Linked DNA regions of Homo sapiens: region 1 is linked to region 2. Evidence: fine-mapped expression QTL. A gene starts in region 2. The other region holds a variant in brackets. All regions are shown on one strand. Distances are from middle to middle.

Region 1 (8,277 bases), 49 kb before region 2:
CCTGGCTAACACGGTGAAACCCCATCTCTACTACAAATACAAAAAATTAGCCGGGCGTGGTGGTGGACGCCTGTAGTCCCAGCTACTCAGGAGGCTGAGGCAGGAAAATGGCGTGAACCCGGGAGGCGGAGCTTGCAGTGAGCAGAGCTTGCGGTGAGCAGAGATTGTGCCACTGCACTCCAGCCTGGGCGACAGAGCGAGACTCCATCTCAAAAAAAAAGGGGAGAGGGGAGTGGGGGGGTCAGCGAGGTCTGACCTCAGGCCAGTTATACAGCAGTCACTCACAGATCCAACGAACCAGAGGAGATCAAACCCTCATCAAAATCCTGCCTCTGGTACTTCCGCTAAGCTCTGGGTACACCTACTGTATGTTCCTGTAATTCCTACTGATTTTTTTAAAAAAAGAAAACATTAAAAAATCCAATTTATTTAAGCTGTCACAGACGCTTCCAGATTACCAGGGCCACCTTCCAAGCTGGGAAACCTTGCAGACTGTGGGGTCCTGCACACCTAGACTTGCTCCTTTTAGAAGCCATGGAGGAGGTTGATAATGGGAATAACATTTATTGTAGCTTATCTCTATGCCTTGAGCAATGTGCTCACACTGGCTGGTTCCCTCCTCACATCAGCCTGATGAGTCAGATCCTGTTATTACTTCTCACTTTACAGATGAGGAAGTAGCAGTAAATCCATTACCCTTTTCAAGCGGAGGTTGCAAGAGGTTGCAAGCGGAGGCAGAATAAACACTTGAAACAGTGAGTCAGATCCTGTTATCACTTCTCACTTTACAGATGAGGAAGTGGCAGTAAATCCACTGCCCACGGTCCCAGGGGTTGTTAGTGACAGAGTCATCATTCATCTCCCTCCCTCCCCACCACTGTAGCCCCAATTGTTCTTTCTCTTCCCATCGGAGGGATTTAAACAGGTCTCTCCCATTTAAAAGCAAACAGGGCTGGACACGGTGGCTCACGCCTGTAATCCCAGCACTTTGGGAGGCCGAGGCGGGCAAATCACGAGATCAGGAGATTGAGACCATCCTGGCTAACATGGTGAAAACCCATCTGTACTAAAAATACAAAAAAATTACCTGGGCATGGTGGTGGGCGCCTGTGGTCCCAGCTACTTGGGAGGCTGAGGCAGGAGAATCGCTTGAACCTGGGAGGCAGAGGTTGCAGTGAGCCGAGATTGCGCCACTGCACTCCAGTCTGGAGACACAGCAAGACTTTGTCTCAAAACACACACACACACACACACACACACACACACACAACACAACACAACAACAACAACAACAAAAAAAGTGTCCTCTTCCTTTTAGAGAATTTAAAAAACAGGGTGAAACCCCATGTCTACTAAAAATACAAAAATTAGCAAGTGTGGTGGCACATGCTTGTAATCCCAGCTACCCGGAAGGCTAAGGCAGGAGAATCGGTTGAAACCAGGAGGCGGAGGTTGCAAAGAGCCGAGATCGCACCATTGCACTCCAGCCTGGGCAACAGAGTGAGACTCCATCTCGGAAAAAAAAAGTGGGGGCTTGGGGGTTCCGGGCATGGTTGACTGTGTGACTATATTATATCTATACATAATATATAGATATATATCTATATATAATATATAGATATCTATATATTATATATAGATATATATCTCTATTATATATAATAGATATATCTATTTATATATAGATATTATAGAGACATCTATATCTATATCTATATATAATATCTATATTATATTACGCCTGTAATCCCCGCACTTTGGGAGGCCGAGGCAAGTGAACCACTTGAGGCCAGGAGTTTGAGACGAGCCAGAGCAACATGGCAAAACCCCGTCTCAAAAAAAATTAGCCAGGTGTGGTGGCAGCATCTGTAATCCCAGCTGTTCGGAGGCTGAGGCATGAGAATCGCTTGAACCCGGTAGGAGGTTGCAGTGAGCCGAGATCGTGCCACTGCACCCCAGTCTGGGCGATAGAGTGAGACTCTGTCTCAAAAAAAAAAAAAATGTATTTCCTGATTCTTGCCACACCTGCCCTTGATGCATCAGACTCTGGCTGCTGAAATACCAAGGGCGGCGACCCTGCAGCCCCAGTGTGGATTTGTCTGCACTTGCTGATACCAGAAACTGCAGTGGGGGCAGGTGGGTGGTAGGAGCGGGGGTTCCCTCATGCCCAGGCCCTGCACCTGGGAAGCCTTTGGAGGCCATCACATGAGCTGCCTGAGGCGGATGGAAGAGACGGTGCCAAGCAGGCCCAATATGTTCCCTGCTGGCCCTGGTACTGCTCCCCTGCGGATGCTCCTGGTTGGTTCACCACCTCGTGCGGAGTGAGGAGCTGAGCAGCCCAGCCACTGAGCAGGATTTCCCTCTAAGAACGGCCCCTTCCACCCTGCAATGCCTTCTTCCTCTGCACCTCAGCTCCCCCACTTCCAAGGCGTTCCTTCCCGGAACGTGTGTATTCTTCTCTTCATCTTGCTAAGGAAAGTTCTGGCTCTTGGTGCTCTGGCTTGGCACCTTCTAAGCTCTCTAGCCCTTTTCCCCCCGCCCCCCCCCCCCCCAAAAAAAAGCGTTCTCAGCCAGGCGTGGTGGCTCATGCCTGTAATTCCAGCACTTTGGGAGGCTGAGCCCAGAGGATCACTTGAGCTCAGGAGTTCAAAACTAGCCTGGCCAACATGGTGAAACCTCATCTCTACTAAAAATACAAAAATTTGCCAGTGTGATGGTGCACATATGTAATCCCAGCTACTCGGGAGGCTGAGACAGGACAATCGCTTGAACCTGGGAGGTGGAGGTTGCAGTGAGCTGAGATTATGCCACTGCACTCCAGCCTGGGTGACAGAGTGAGACTGTCTCAAAAAACCAAAAAACAAAACAAAAAACCACTCAGGCTTAGCCATTTCTCTGGGGTCTTCATTTCCTTATGAAGACTCTCGCAAAACTGGTATGAAGTAAAATTTGTTTGCTTTTTTCCTATTAATGTCTTTGTCAGTTTAAGGCCCAGCCAGGGACACTAGGAGAATTGAGGAAGTTTTGCCGCCCACCGCCCCCCCCCCCAGCAATGGGGACAGCAGGTGGGTGGAGGCCGCTGAGGGCTTCTGCGCCATGACTCACCCTCTGCCCATGGAAGCAGCTAGAAAGTGAAGGTGAATCCCAAAGCGCAACGCTCCTTCTGGCAAAGGGAACAGAGAGGGAACAGATCTTCTTCAATCAGCGCAGCCCCCTCTGCTACGGACAGGTCTGCTCTCCCCCAGACAGCTGTCTTCTAGGCCCCCACCTCTGAATCACCTTCCTAGGTGG[GAAAC/G]AAACAAAGATAAATGCAAAGCCACCGTTCCAGCCCCAGTCCACACCTAACAAGACCTCCTGACGCCGCTCAAAAGGGGCACGATGGCTACTCAACTTTTTCTGCACAAATTTGCCATCGTGAAATGTTTGGAAAGGTCTTTAGCAGCTTTTAACATTGCTGAACTTGAAAAAAATGTCATCAAGAAGCAATTTACTCAAGTCTCTTCTGGGTCCTTTTAAATTCTTGCCAGAGGGTGCTGGTGGCAGGGGTGACGGGGTAATGGCGGTCTCAGGGGATGGGAGGGCTTCACAACTGTATCTGTGGAATAACTCTTTTCCAAATTGGCTTATTCAAAAAGCATGCTTAGCAGTGACCAAAAACGAGACAGCGGGCACGCTGGATTTCTTTCACAAGAAGAGAGAGCCTAGGAATTAATAGAGTTTTCTAACTGGAAGGTTTTTGTGGTTACTGTATTTTCCCACATGTAATTATAAGCTGGAACAAAGGCTGGAAAACTTGGAGGATCCTGACGACGAAGGGCCCACCATCCAGCCACCTGCTTCGGCGTGTGCTGAGTTTAAAAGGCCTCTAAGATGTAGACGGATTTACTCTCCACCTCACAATTCTATTTCCAGAAGGGGAGAGAAGTTGAGGAGACCCAAAATGAAAGATGGCAGAACTGTATTGGTTTGTAATTCCTCCCCACAGACAGACAGACAGACAAAACCACTCACTTGGGAAACTCAAAATAGATGCTCGCTTGTAAAGTTTATTGACAACTGTTTGGTCCCAACACACAAAACAGCACTTGAACCACAACAAAAGTGTTCAAACAAAGTAGACAACTAAGAAAAACATCTCTTTCCCCCAAACCCAATCCAAAACAAACAGTGCAAGATGGGAAAGGGGGTTTTGGTGATAACTTTTGTCATTTTTTTAAACAGATAAATTTAATCCGGTATATCTTTCCACCCAGAAATAAAGAATTACATTGTCTTAATGCTCAAACATCATTTTACCACATCATTTAATTAAGCCTCTGGATAAAAAAATAGATAGCAATTGGACTGGCCATTGTGGAGTACATTATGAACACAATGTGCTTCCGAAGTCTTCTCTCTCATTTTCAGACAGCAATTGTTAAGAGTCACACACACGTCCCAGACCTAAGCAGCAACTCCAGTGAATGGTACTCAGACACACTCACGGGACAGCACAGAACTTGATTCTTCTTTGTCTGTTGCCCAAAGAACCTGTTCTTTGAGTCTGTTCCAGGTGACTTGTAATGATACCTCTTACGGTTTTAAAGTCCACCACTCTTTACATGCTAGCAGAACTGAAGTCCAAGCGTGCAAACTCAGCCTTATGAAATCTTAGAATAAGGCAACTGATGTTCTCAACACCAATTATTATTACTTTGTTTAAAAGCTCCTTTAAAAAAAATTGCACATTTGCATTTCACTTCCTGTAACACTATGTCTGTAGAGGAAATGCCTTCAGGAGGATTCGGAGAGTGCCATAATACTTACAGGGTTTTTTCCATGGTGTTCTGTCTTGACTGGGGCCATGTGTTGAGAACTGGGAGTCACTGGCTTCATTTAAAAGATTTGGGGAACAAAAAATCTGACTTGTAAAAATCTCTCTATAGCCCTTATTTTGTGGCATTTTATCAAAATGCTATGAAATCAGAGTCCATTTTCTGGCTTTCTAGAAGTTACCAAATATAAACATTTCCCCAAAAGAAACCATCTAACTAGTGGAAGACCTTACGCCAACAGGTTCTTTCTGCTCTATGAATGAATCCGCCTTTTTTGCCGGACAAATACAATCCATTGTAAATGTCAGGTTTCTCTAGAGGGGGGTGAGAGGCCACCCGTCAGCGGACACCTCAGGCACCTAGAGAGGAAGGCCATTCCACACCAGACGCCACAAGAAACCCAGAGATGCTTCCAACAGCGAGAAGTAACGAGAGTAAAATCAGACACGATTAAAAGATGCTGAGCTGACATACACACACATAAAGCTTCCCAGCTACCGATACCAGCTTTAAAATTACAATAACAAGGTTAAGTGGATCAACCTTGGCCTTCCTATGTGTAGGTAGAATTCCTGTCTCTTCCCAGTGGAAATCGTATTGATCCCGCTGCTGCTGAAGCACCTCCCCACTCAGCTCTGATTTGTAATTTATGCACTTGATGCATATTTTAGAAAATCAGGCTCTTTCCAATGCTGCCTCTCGACACACAATAATGTGTGTTGTAATCCAAATGCTGACTTTAAATCCATGACATCGAGACCATCTCCTTTTCCTTAACCTAACCCATATCAAACTGGAACACAGAAGGGAAGCTTCAAACATCCTCAACTTTCTAGAAAGCTCCTAAATGGAACCCCAAAGTAGAAACGTTTAAAAAAATTTGTGATGAAGCCACTTTTGTCAACTACAGACATAGTTTAAATAAAAAACAAGGCACACTTACAAGTCACATGGAAGCCAGGAACCTTCACATTCCAACCTGAAAATACACTCCGAACCCCTCGCCTACCCTTCTCCTTTGGTGTGTGAACACACAGGCTAGCGGGACAGGCTTTGCTTCAAAGACATGCCACGCACTGGGTTAATACTGTCGGAAACACCAGTAAGCAAAGGCTGAGAGACTCTATTATGCTACATGTAGGATGACACCACCGACGTGGCTCAATGGAAGCAAAACCGCTTCCTGCTAGTTGAGTTTTTAGTGCTTTCTTCTTTTGGAACACCATTGTATTTCATAATAGTTACTAAAAATTTGGTAAAATATATTAAGGATTCTTTAACAAATGCCACAAGTTCTTCAAATAATTGAAAAAAGAAAGAAAAAGGAAGAAGAAAAGAAAGACTTCAGCTCAAAGCTGTGTTCAATGGAAAAGAAAAACATGATAGAACACAGGTAAGATGAAGTCAATGGCTTCGGGGGGTTTTCATGACACAGAAAAGGATGTATTTTTGAAACCCACTTTTGTGTGCAGAATCAGACAGTGTTTTCCCATCCTAATTCTATATTCCAAATGGGAGTTAAAGCTTGGTTATAGGTGCTAAGGAAAAGTTGGCTGCCAATTTGACTCTATTTTTGGGTTGCTTTTTGGCCGGGCTTTCCACGGGGTCCTTGCTGAGCAGTGACTCGGAGGTTTCCGAGGAGGGGCAGGGAGGCACGGGGACAGCTGCTGAGATGCAGGACGAGCTGGAGTCAGAGGTCAGAGTTTTGCTCTTTCCTGGTATTGGAATCTCCATTTTTTCTTCTTGGTTTAAAATCATAATTTCTGTAAACACAGAAAAGCAAACAGATTCAGATCCAGGAACTGTAAGAAGTGTGGGTTTTCTCTTCCTTGCTCATATTTTCTCAAAAGATAATAATAGTAATAAAAAGCTTCTAAATGCTACATCTATGCCACAGTTTACATATGAGTTGTGTGGCCAGTGAACTTGGCACAGAAATCAAGTATCTATAAACTGCATCCCACCTCTCCCACTGGATTACAAAGTTGGAAAGATCTCTATTTTGAGCTATAAATGAATGAGCAAAGGTTAAAACTTTTTGTTTTTCCATTTTGGATTCTCTGCCCATTCATTCTGCCTGCCAGATATTAAGGACCCATAAAGCTATCCACGACTTAGAGACTTCCTGAGGCGGGAGGCCGTGGGTGGTAGGGGGTGGGGTCGGAGCATCTGGGTGTCAGGGAGCTCCTGGCCTGCTCCATTTAGAGAGGACCTATGCTCCCCATGGGTCTATTACCGGGGATAAGGAAGGACTACGCAGAGTGAGAATTACCCTCAGAACCCAGGAAGTTGAGCACAGCCAGCTTTCCCACAGTGCTTCTGGACTGCCATTTCTGTGGCTGAGCCACATGTAATTCACCTGCTCTACACACAGGGCCACGCTGCTTGAAAGAGATGCATCATTATGCCTTAGACTCCCACTGCATAGGGCACAGGGCTCCTGCTCCCAAAGGCCCATGGAAGGTGAGAGTGGCAGAGGGGACAGCAGAGCCAGCTCCCTGCCTAGGCTGACCCTCAAGAGAAGAGCGGCTGACAGAACTGCCCACAGTGTTTTAATTATTTTCCTCTCTTGTCCGGTGCATGCAGTTGAACTTGCCCAGACTGAAGGCACAAAGGCCACAACCCCACAAACGAGCTAACATCAATGTGCCACCAACCCTAGGGGGGCACTGCACAGGAGCAGGGCATGGTCTAGGTCTGACTGCACAGGCTGGTTCTATCCGCAGGCAGTTACTTCCCCATCTCCTATTTTCCAAGTCAACAGCCTCAGTTCTTTTCCTGGGCAACAGTGCTGAACGCTGCCAAGAACAACCAAGATGGTAAAAGCCAAGCCAGGAGTCCACGGGTTGTTCCTGGTGACCTGGAAAGCAGCACCAGCAGTGGGGAGGAGTTGGGTTCCAACAGATGAAGAGCAGGGAGGGATCTGTACAGGGCAGATGGGCCATCCTCTCCAGAGGCCAGGAGACACCGCAGGACAAGAGGGCTTGGGTTCCAATGCCGGCTCTGCCCTTGCTAGCCCAGCAGCCCGGGGCCACTGCCTCTCTAGTGACGGCACCAGCTGTGCCTTAGTCACGCAGCCTGTGGAATAAAGCAGCTGCCTTTATTCCACGGCTCTCACCTGGAGCCGTGGTAAGAGTTAAATGTGATGGTGTCTGTCAGCCCTGAGCACAGGGTCAGTGCCAATGCCTGCACTAGGCTGGGACTCAGTGTGCTCAGCTTCCTGTCTGTTATATCACTGGGCAGAGTCCGGGGCTCCAGCCACAGACACCTCCCTCCATTCACCCCTTTATAAAGCCCTTGGGCCCTCTGGACCCCCACCATGGGTGACGTGTACATCTGGTGACAGGTGTGCCTGAGAGCAGCTGAACCTTCACAAAGTCTGGGAGAGCAGAAGCCCAGGAGGCCCCACCCACCCCTGTGGACTCGCCCACAGCCCCGAGCCACCAGCCCTCCAGAGCTGCCA
Region 2 (8,334 bases):
TCATTATCTTGTTGAAGCCATCCACGTGTTCTACTGCAGGAGTTCTCAGTTCCGTTTCCTTCCATCATACAGCCATGCAAAGTGATTCAACATCCTTTCATCTTTCTTTTCTTTCATTCTTCCACCCTGTTAAGAATGAGTAAGATTTCAGTGTTATTTCCTTGCATAAGTACAAATTTTACAACATACTAAAATGTGAAACCACAGCTATATTTACAGTCCTATGGCTCTCAACAATTCAAATCTTTGTTTCAAGAGGAAGTCTCGCTCTGTCGCCCAGGCTGGCATGCAGTGGTACGATCTCAGCTCACTGCAACCTCCGTCTCCCGGGTTCAAGCGATTTTTCTGCCTCAGCCTCCAGAGTAGCTGGGACTACAGGAGCCTGTCACTATGCCTGGCTAATTTTTATATTTTTAGTAGAGATGGGGTTTCACCAAGTTGGCCAGGCTGGTCTTGAACTCCTGACCTCAAGTGATCCACCCTCCTCGGCCTCCCAAAGTGCTGGGATTACAGGCATTAGCCACTGCGCCCGGCCAACAATTCAAATCTTAACAAACAAAATAATAATAATAAAATAAAGAAAGAAAAAAACACAAAATATCAGAGCATATTACGGGTTAATAAAATTTGGTAAACTTGGTTGACTGTTTATGCTTAAAATCTAACTGCAACAACCTGATTTCTTAAAAAATCTATAATCTGCCATTCTTCATGTTTCATAGCTCTTCAAATAAAAAATGAACTCTCCATGAGTCTTGTTTCCTTTCCACATGTAACCATGTTTGAGAGAGGTAGCCATATCTTGGAAACTTGCATATTCCAGAGTGAGACTTCACCTCCTCACTTGGCTGGAATCAATTTTTTCTACAGTTTTTCTGAATTCTTTTCGGCTCTCTCTCCCTAAAGATGCTGCTCAGGAAAGTCAAAAGTTAACAGAAGAGAGCATCTAATCTGAGTAAAAGAGCCACCACCACATCCTCATTGACAACTATATGTAAGATTTTAAAATTGACTTAAGAGCAACTTCTTGCACTGGTTTCTTGATCTGAGCATGAAAAGTCCAAACTAAGTGGCCTCTGTGGACTTTGAATTTGATTTGCTACAGAACAAATTGAACCAATTTCTTAGTTTACTAATGATGAAAGTGCAATCTGATATACCACCAAAAATCTAACTGATAGAAAAATCTCAAGTCGCAGATGTGTTATATCTACGCCAGAGCAACAACACTCTTACAGGTCTTAACAATAAATGCAAGCGAGGCACCGTGGCTCAGGCCTGCAATCCCAGCACTTTGGGAGGCCAAGGTGGGTGGATTGCTTGAGCCCAGGAGTTCCCAACCAGCCTGGGCAACATGGCAAAACCCCATGGCTACAAAAAATTAGCTGAGCGTGGTGGTGCATGCCTGTAGCCCCATCTACTCAGGAGGCTATGGTGGAAGAATCACCTAAGACTGCGTAGTCAAGGCTGCAGTGAGCTGTGATTGCACCACTGCACTGCAGCCTGGGCGACGGAGTGAGACCCTGTCTCAAAAACCAACAAACAAAATTACATGAAATTAAAATGTCAGTGTCCATAAATAAAGTTTAATTGGGACACAGACACACTCATTCACTTAAATACTGCCTATGACTGCTTTTGCATTCCAATTGCAGAGTTGCAAAGAGAGTCTCTGCAAAGAGACTGTATGGCCCACAAAGCCTATATTTACTACGTGGCTCTTTTGTCAGCCTGGGCAATATAGCAAGATCACAGCTCTAAAATAAAATAAAGTTCAAAAAATTAGCATAGTGTGGCAGCATGCGCCTAGTCCCAGCTACTAGAGAGACTGAGGTAGGAGGATCTCTTGAGCCCAAGAATTTGAGGCTACAGTGAACTATATTGTGCCACTGGCCCTTCAGCGTGGGCAACAGAGTGAGATTCCATCTCTAAAAAAATTTTTGTTTTCAAGTTTCTGTTTCCTCCTATGCAAAATGTGGCTAATTTCTCCCCGCCACTGCATTACAGAGAAAAAAAAAATTAGATAAATGAACCCCACTGTCTATTTTCACCACTGTATCTCTTGTGCCAACCAAAATGCTCCCTACTCTGTAAATACAAAGTAAACATTACCTACTACACACTATTGGGAGTGGTTAATTTGGAGATGGATTTAACTGCTACCACTGATAGTAAATTACGATTCTTGTCTTTCCTATTAGATACAGGTTTTATGTCCCCCAAAAAACTCCTCTCAAAATCGTAAGAATCTGTGATATTCACAGTGTTCATAACTTAAACATTCTCTCAAACTTCTTCAAAGCCAAATCCTGAAAGTGAGCTAACATTCACAGTATAATCTAGTTTATAAAGTATTTTCACTTAACATTACTTATGTCTTCATTCAGCAAATATTTACTTAGTATCTACTATGCAGCAGGCCTGTGCTTGGCACAAGGAATATAATGATGAAAAAAACCCAGACGGTGGGATCCTCTTATATAATTTTTGCAATAATCCTGTGAAATAGACAGGGGAGAAATTAGCTACATTTTTGCAGAGAGAGAAAAAGAAACTTAATGAAGTTTTGTAGCGAGCCTGACACAAGATTAGGCTTGTTCACCCCTTTCCACTACATCAAGGTGCCTTCAATACTGCTCAATACAAGCGATTAAAAGTAAAAACTTTCAGGTGCCTGCACCCTGAAAACTTCCCAAATACCATCCACGAAGCAACTTAGGTAGCCAAAAGCAGGTTCTGTTTGACTTGAGCGACAGTCTCCTTTCTGTCACTCTCTTCAAGTCTTTTGACCAATTCAATGAGGAGAGCATAGGCTCTGTCGACTGTCTGCATTTTGGTCTCCAATTTGACTGCGGTGCAGCTTTGGACAACTCACAACCTCTCTGAACCTCAGATCCCATCTCTAAAATGGGTGTGATAATAATAGAAACCACCTTACAAGGCCGTTGTTTGGATTACATGAGGTAATCCACGGGGAACATTTAGCAAATGTTGTTTCCTTAGCACCCAATCTAGTCTTTGACCCCACACCACCCCATCCCATTACCGTTTTCTCCCCCATAGCTCTTCTGTCCAAAACGGCCTTTTTAGCTTATTTTATTATCTTTCTCCCCCATTAGGCTATAAACTCCATGACAGCAGAGACTATGTTTTCTTATCCACTATTCCAACTCCTGTCCTTAGTACAATGCCTGGCATATTTTAATAAATAACTGTTGAACGAATAAAGCTTAATAAATAGGAAAACAGTTTAGGTTTCAATACACCGATATGCAAAAGAGAAGAATATTTACCGCTCAGAGAAGTCCAAAAGACACAAATGCAATTGGACAGCTCTTGGTAATACCGGAAAGGTGCTTGAGAAACTCTAAAAGGTGTATCACGAGGTCGCGTTACAACTACTAGTGAGAGTGGCTGAAGCCCTAGACATTGTCAACCCTGAGACTACACCCTATGTGTTGCTAAAAGGCCGAGGAGAATGCAAAACGGCCGGGGAGGGGGGAGTGTGTTGCAAAAACACCCGCCCCTTTCCTTCTCTCTTAACCTTCCAGCTGTGCACTTCACTCCTGGAGGGCCCCACCAGGGGTCAGACAGGGGCGGGCGGGGAGCCAAATGCCCTCGAAGGGGAACAGCGGCGCCAACAGTGACAGTAGTGAATGGACCCGAAAGGGAGACAAGCCAACTCTTTCGTGGGGGGCCCAACTGGCGCGTCCCAGTTAGCTAACCTCCCCTCTCCACCACCATCCCACCAGCAATAGGCGGGGAAAGAGGGGACACTGTCCTCCGTCCCGCCCCGCTGGCCTCGGAGCAGAGCCTGCCGGGGTCTGGTCGCAGGACTGTCTGCAAACTCACCTCTGCCGCCGGCTCCACCTCCGCTCACATTCCGGCCCCGCCGCCTTCCCCCCGCCCCCCCCAGGCCCTTTGTTTTGATTCCCGACTCCGCAGCTCCCGCCGCCGCCGCCAAGCGCACCCTTCACTTCCGCTTCCGCACCGCACCGCCCCTGTCGCAAAACCGACGCCCTTCTCTCCTCTTCGCCCCGCCCCTTCCTCGCCCCGCCTCCGCCGCCGCGTCCTGTCCGCGCGGGGCATGCTGGGAACCCCGGGGGGGGCGGGGCCTCGCGGCCCTGCAGCCTCGTCAGGCTCAGTCCCCTCCCGATAAACCCCTAAATAGGGACTTTCCCGGGGGGTGACCCTGGCTTTTTTGGCGAAAACCCCCAGTTTAAGGAGGCCTTCCCCCTGGCTTCACGTTGTGGAGTCGAAAGGAACCTTGAAGCGGAGAATGAGCTCGTGACGTGGACCCGAGGAAAAAACCTGCCAACCAGGATTTAATAGAATTCAGCTCTTTCAGGCTTTGGAGGGAAGGCGATTTGAACGGGATTTCAATGAAAAACCCTGTCCCTTCGGCTTTTTTTTTTTCCTCTCTCGGGTCTCGTCACGTGATGGTCCTACTTTATTTTTAAAAATTAAATGGCGCATATTCCCCAGCATCCTAAATCTAGTGCAACCTAGTGGCAAGTGGAGAAAAAAATAACTGCCAACCTGGCTTCCTACGAGGTCCCCCGGAGTTCTCGCAAAGTTGCGACCCAGTTGGCAAAAATACAGTGTGTGCAAAGACTCAACTGGACATTGCCACCAAGAATCAAGAGATTTTTGGGGACTTTAGCAAGAAAACGTTATTTTTAAAAGCCCTGCTCCAAAGCTGGTTACAAATGAATACTGCGTTTCCAGTGACAGGTTGGGCGAGCAGAAAGGAAATCTTACGGTTAGTTTCAAACACTTTGTGTTTTAGGTGGCCAGATATGCTGTGTGGTTTGCTTTAAAAAAAAAAATAGCGCCCCACAATCTTCACGTTTCCCTGGAATAAAAAAAAATTTAAGACTCAGCAAAAGGGTGATTTCTGAAACTACCAGCTGATTACTATTTTCTGTTGCAAATTAGGAAAAAAGCAAAGCACATATTGTGTAAGTTAAATCTAGACACGATTTAGGATGTGCTAGCTGCTAGCTAAATGCTACCTTAGGAGTTTATTTTTAAAGTTTGCCCAGAAACAAGTTGACTTTGCAAAAGAATCAGTAAGTCGAAATTGCCAAACGAGAATATTTTGCCCAAAAAAATCCTTACTGGGAGGTTATTTCAATAGGCAATCCCCATTACGTGGGGATTAACACATCCCTGTAAACATCCCTGTAGACGGGTATTGTGGAGGGCAGGATCAGACATGTAGCTGAAGAATCCTTTGTGCCTGTATTTAATTTTCCAGAAGGCAGATGACAAGCACACATCCTCTCCCTGCGTAGGTATTTATTACTGCTGACTAAATCTTGACTGTGGGCTGGGCGCAGTGGCTCAGGCCTGTATTCCCAATACTTTGAGAGGCTACGGAGGGAGGATCTCTTGAGCCTACAAATTTGAGACTAGACTGGGAAACGGTGAAACCCTATCACTATTTAGAAAAGAAAGAAAAAGAAAAAAATCTTCATTATGTCTGTGTATAGGTAGTATTTTCCAAGTGGAGATTAGAATAGATGAAAAACCCGTTTCTAGCGTTTTGGCTTTTTTCAAAGTACCAAACAAATACGCTACTCTTCAGAGGTGTTTTTTCCCCATTTTATTTCAGTTGAGTATGTTTCAACACAAGCCATATTAACTAAAAATCTTAAGAAACAAGGTAATTGTAGGTTTCTAATTGCTTTTTTTAAAAAATAGTTTTTAGCCAGAAAACATCAAAGAATGCAGACACATTTCCTTTTTACTTTTTTTTTTTTTTTTTTTGAGACAAAGTCTTGCTTCATTGCCCAGGCTGGAGTGCAGTGGCAGGATCTTGGCTCACTGCAGCCTCCACCTCCCGGGTTCAACCGATTCTCATGCCTCAGCCTCCTGAGTAGCTAGGATTACAGGCGCCCACCACCATGCCTGGCTAATTTTTGTGTTTTTAGTAGAGACGGGATATTGCCATGTTGGCCAGGCTGGTCTCGAACTCCTAGCCTCAAGTGATCCTCCCGCCTCGGCCTCTTTAGGATTACAGGGCTGAGCCAACGAGCTTGACCACATTTTCTTTATATGTATATTTTTCTTTTAGATTCCTTTTTACCAAGCAGACACATTTTGTTTGACTTAGCTTGGCATTCTTTCAAGTCCAAAGCTGTAACTAGTCACAACAAGTAAATGTAGTGATTGAAAATGGGCGGGGCATGGTGACTCATGTCGTAATCCCAGCACTTTGGGAGGCTGAGACAGGAGGACCCCTTGAGGCTTGGTGTTTAAAACCAGCCTGAGCAACATGGTGTGACACTTGTCTCTATTAAAAAAATTTTTAAAAACAAAACAGTCGTATTAAGTGGAAGGCTAATAAAAGTCTGAATTACAAATACTTTTAAAAGAAATGTAATTTTATTGCTGCTTTCTAAAGACTAGGAGCCTAAGCAAAGTATACCAGGCCTTAGGAGACAATTATGAATCAAAATACATAAATTTTCTCTTAAGATATATTTTAAGTATGTATCCTCTATTAATTGTATTCCTGTTTCTTTGCTGGGAAAACTTTAGAGAGTACAAGTAACTTTCAGTTTTTCCCTTGTCCAAATTATAGTCTTCACATGTATGAAAACCGAAAGACTTTTTTGTGTGCTATTTAAGTAGCTACTTTACATGCAATTCAGCTTTTCAACTAACCAAGCTGTTATTAAAGGAGTTTCTCCCCAGAAACCAATCTTCTACCTGTATTAGGTTCAGTGGTTTGAATTAATAAATGATCATGGAAGGACCTAAGGAAGTTAAATTGAGTTATCTGCTCAGCCATAGTCCAAAGCTACAAGGAAAACAAATTGAATTTAAAAAGAACAAGAAAAACATTTTAAATGTTTTTAAGGTTTTACCCAATGACAAACCTATTTCCCTAAATGTTGTTCCCAAATAGGACTTTAAGGATTATTATTTCAATGCCCTCTCTTTTTTCTTTATGGAAAATTTGGGAAATTGAGAACCAACTAGTTTAAATACCTTGATCAAAGCCATTTAGGCAACACCAGTACCTCATCAGTTTGTGCTTCGGTTTCTCTGTAAGCTGAGGTGATTAGTTCCTGTCCAGAAACGTCACAGAGTGGTTAGGGCCAAATAAAATTCCGAGGGGGGCCAGGCGCAGTGGCTCACGCCTGTAATCCCAGCACTTTGGGAGGCCGAGGCAGGTGGATCACTTGAGGTCAGGAGTTCGAGACCAGCCTGGCCAAACCAACATGGTGAAACCCTGTGTCTACTAAAACTACAAAATTAGCTGGACGTGGTGGTGCACACCTGAAATCCCAGCTACTCAGGAATCTGAGGCAGGAGAATCGCTTGAACCCAGGAGGAAGAGGTTGCGGTGAGCCGAGATCGTGCCACTGCACTCCAGCCTGGGCAACAGAACGAGACTCCGTCAAAAAAAAGAAAAAAAAAATCCAAGGGGGGTTAATACCAGCTACTTGGTAGGCTGAGGCAGGAGAATCGCTTGAACTGGAAGGTGGAGGTTACAATGAGCCGAGATCGCACCACTGCACTCTAGCCTGGGCGACAGAGTGAGATTCCATCTTAATGAATAAGTAAATAAGTAATAAAATTCCTAAGGGGAGGCTTGGTGTGGTGGCTCATGCCTGTAATCCCAGCACTTTTGGAGGCTGAGGCGGGTGGAGCACTTGAGGTCAGGAGTTCAAAACCAGCCTGGCCAACATGGTGAAACCCTGCCTCTACTAAAATAGAAAAATTAGGTGGGCATGGTGGTGAACACCTGTAATCCCAGCTAGTCGAAAGGCTGAGGCAGGAGAATCGCTTGAACCCGGGAGGTGGAGGTTGCAGTGAGCCGAGATTGCAGCACTGCACTCTAGCCTGGGCAACAGAGTGAAACTCTGTCTCGAAATAAAATAAAATTCCAAGGGGGAAGGCATCAGACGTAGTAAAGTGTGAAGCAGCATGTAAATGATTCATTAATGTTTGGGAAGTTTCCTGAAAGACATTTGGTACTTTCCTTAAACCTGTTGATAGGTGGTGGGGTTCCCCTTTGTGCCTCTAAGCAGTTTTTAGGAATTAGCAAGGAGTTCAAAGTAGAATTTGAGAAAGGCTGTTGTAGGATAGCAGGAAGGCAAGATGGGGTGGGAGATCCTGTAATAGCTAAGATCTCTTTGCCTCTAGCATAGTGCTGAAGAAGGAGGGTTTAGGAGTCAGAGCCAGCTCTGAAGCCTGATTTGTTAATTACTAGTTGTAAGACCTCGGACAACTCAATTAACTTCCTGCACCTTTATTTTCTTATCTTTAACATGGATACAATTTAATGCTTTCCTGTGGTTCATCACCTGTGGTTCAGTT

What was found.
Region 1: its variant is fine-mapped to the expression of MARF1 in testis (GTEx, PIP 0.92).

What each region holds. Positions count from the first base shown.
Region 1 is chr16:15,590,361-15,598,637 of GRCh38, forward strand. MARF1 (meiosis regulator and mRNA stability factor 1) reads right to left here. Exons shown (of 27, transcript NM_014647.4): 27 at 4,027-6,577. The coding sequence ends at 6,333. Among named protein-coding and RNA genes, the nearest start is that of MIR6506, 17 kb to the right of the region's middle. RefSeq lists enhancers at 166-1,365, 712-1,006. The variant GAAAC/G (reference allele first, on the strand shown) is at 3,292.
Region 2 is chr16:15,639,166-15,647,499 of GRCh38, forward strand. MARF1 (meiosis regulator and mRNA stability factor 1) reads right to left here and starts at 3,989. Exons shown (of 27, transcript NM_014647.4): 1 at 3,853-3,989; 2 at 1-126. The coding sequence starts at 68. MIR484 (microRNA 484) reads left to right here and starts at 4,129; the gene lies at 4,129-4,207. It also overlaps a transcript of NDE1 not described here.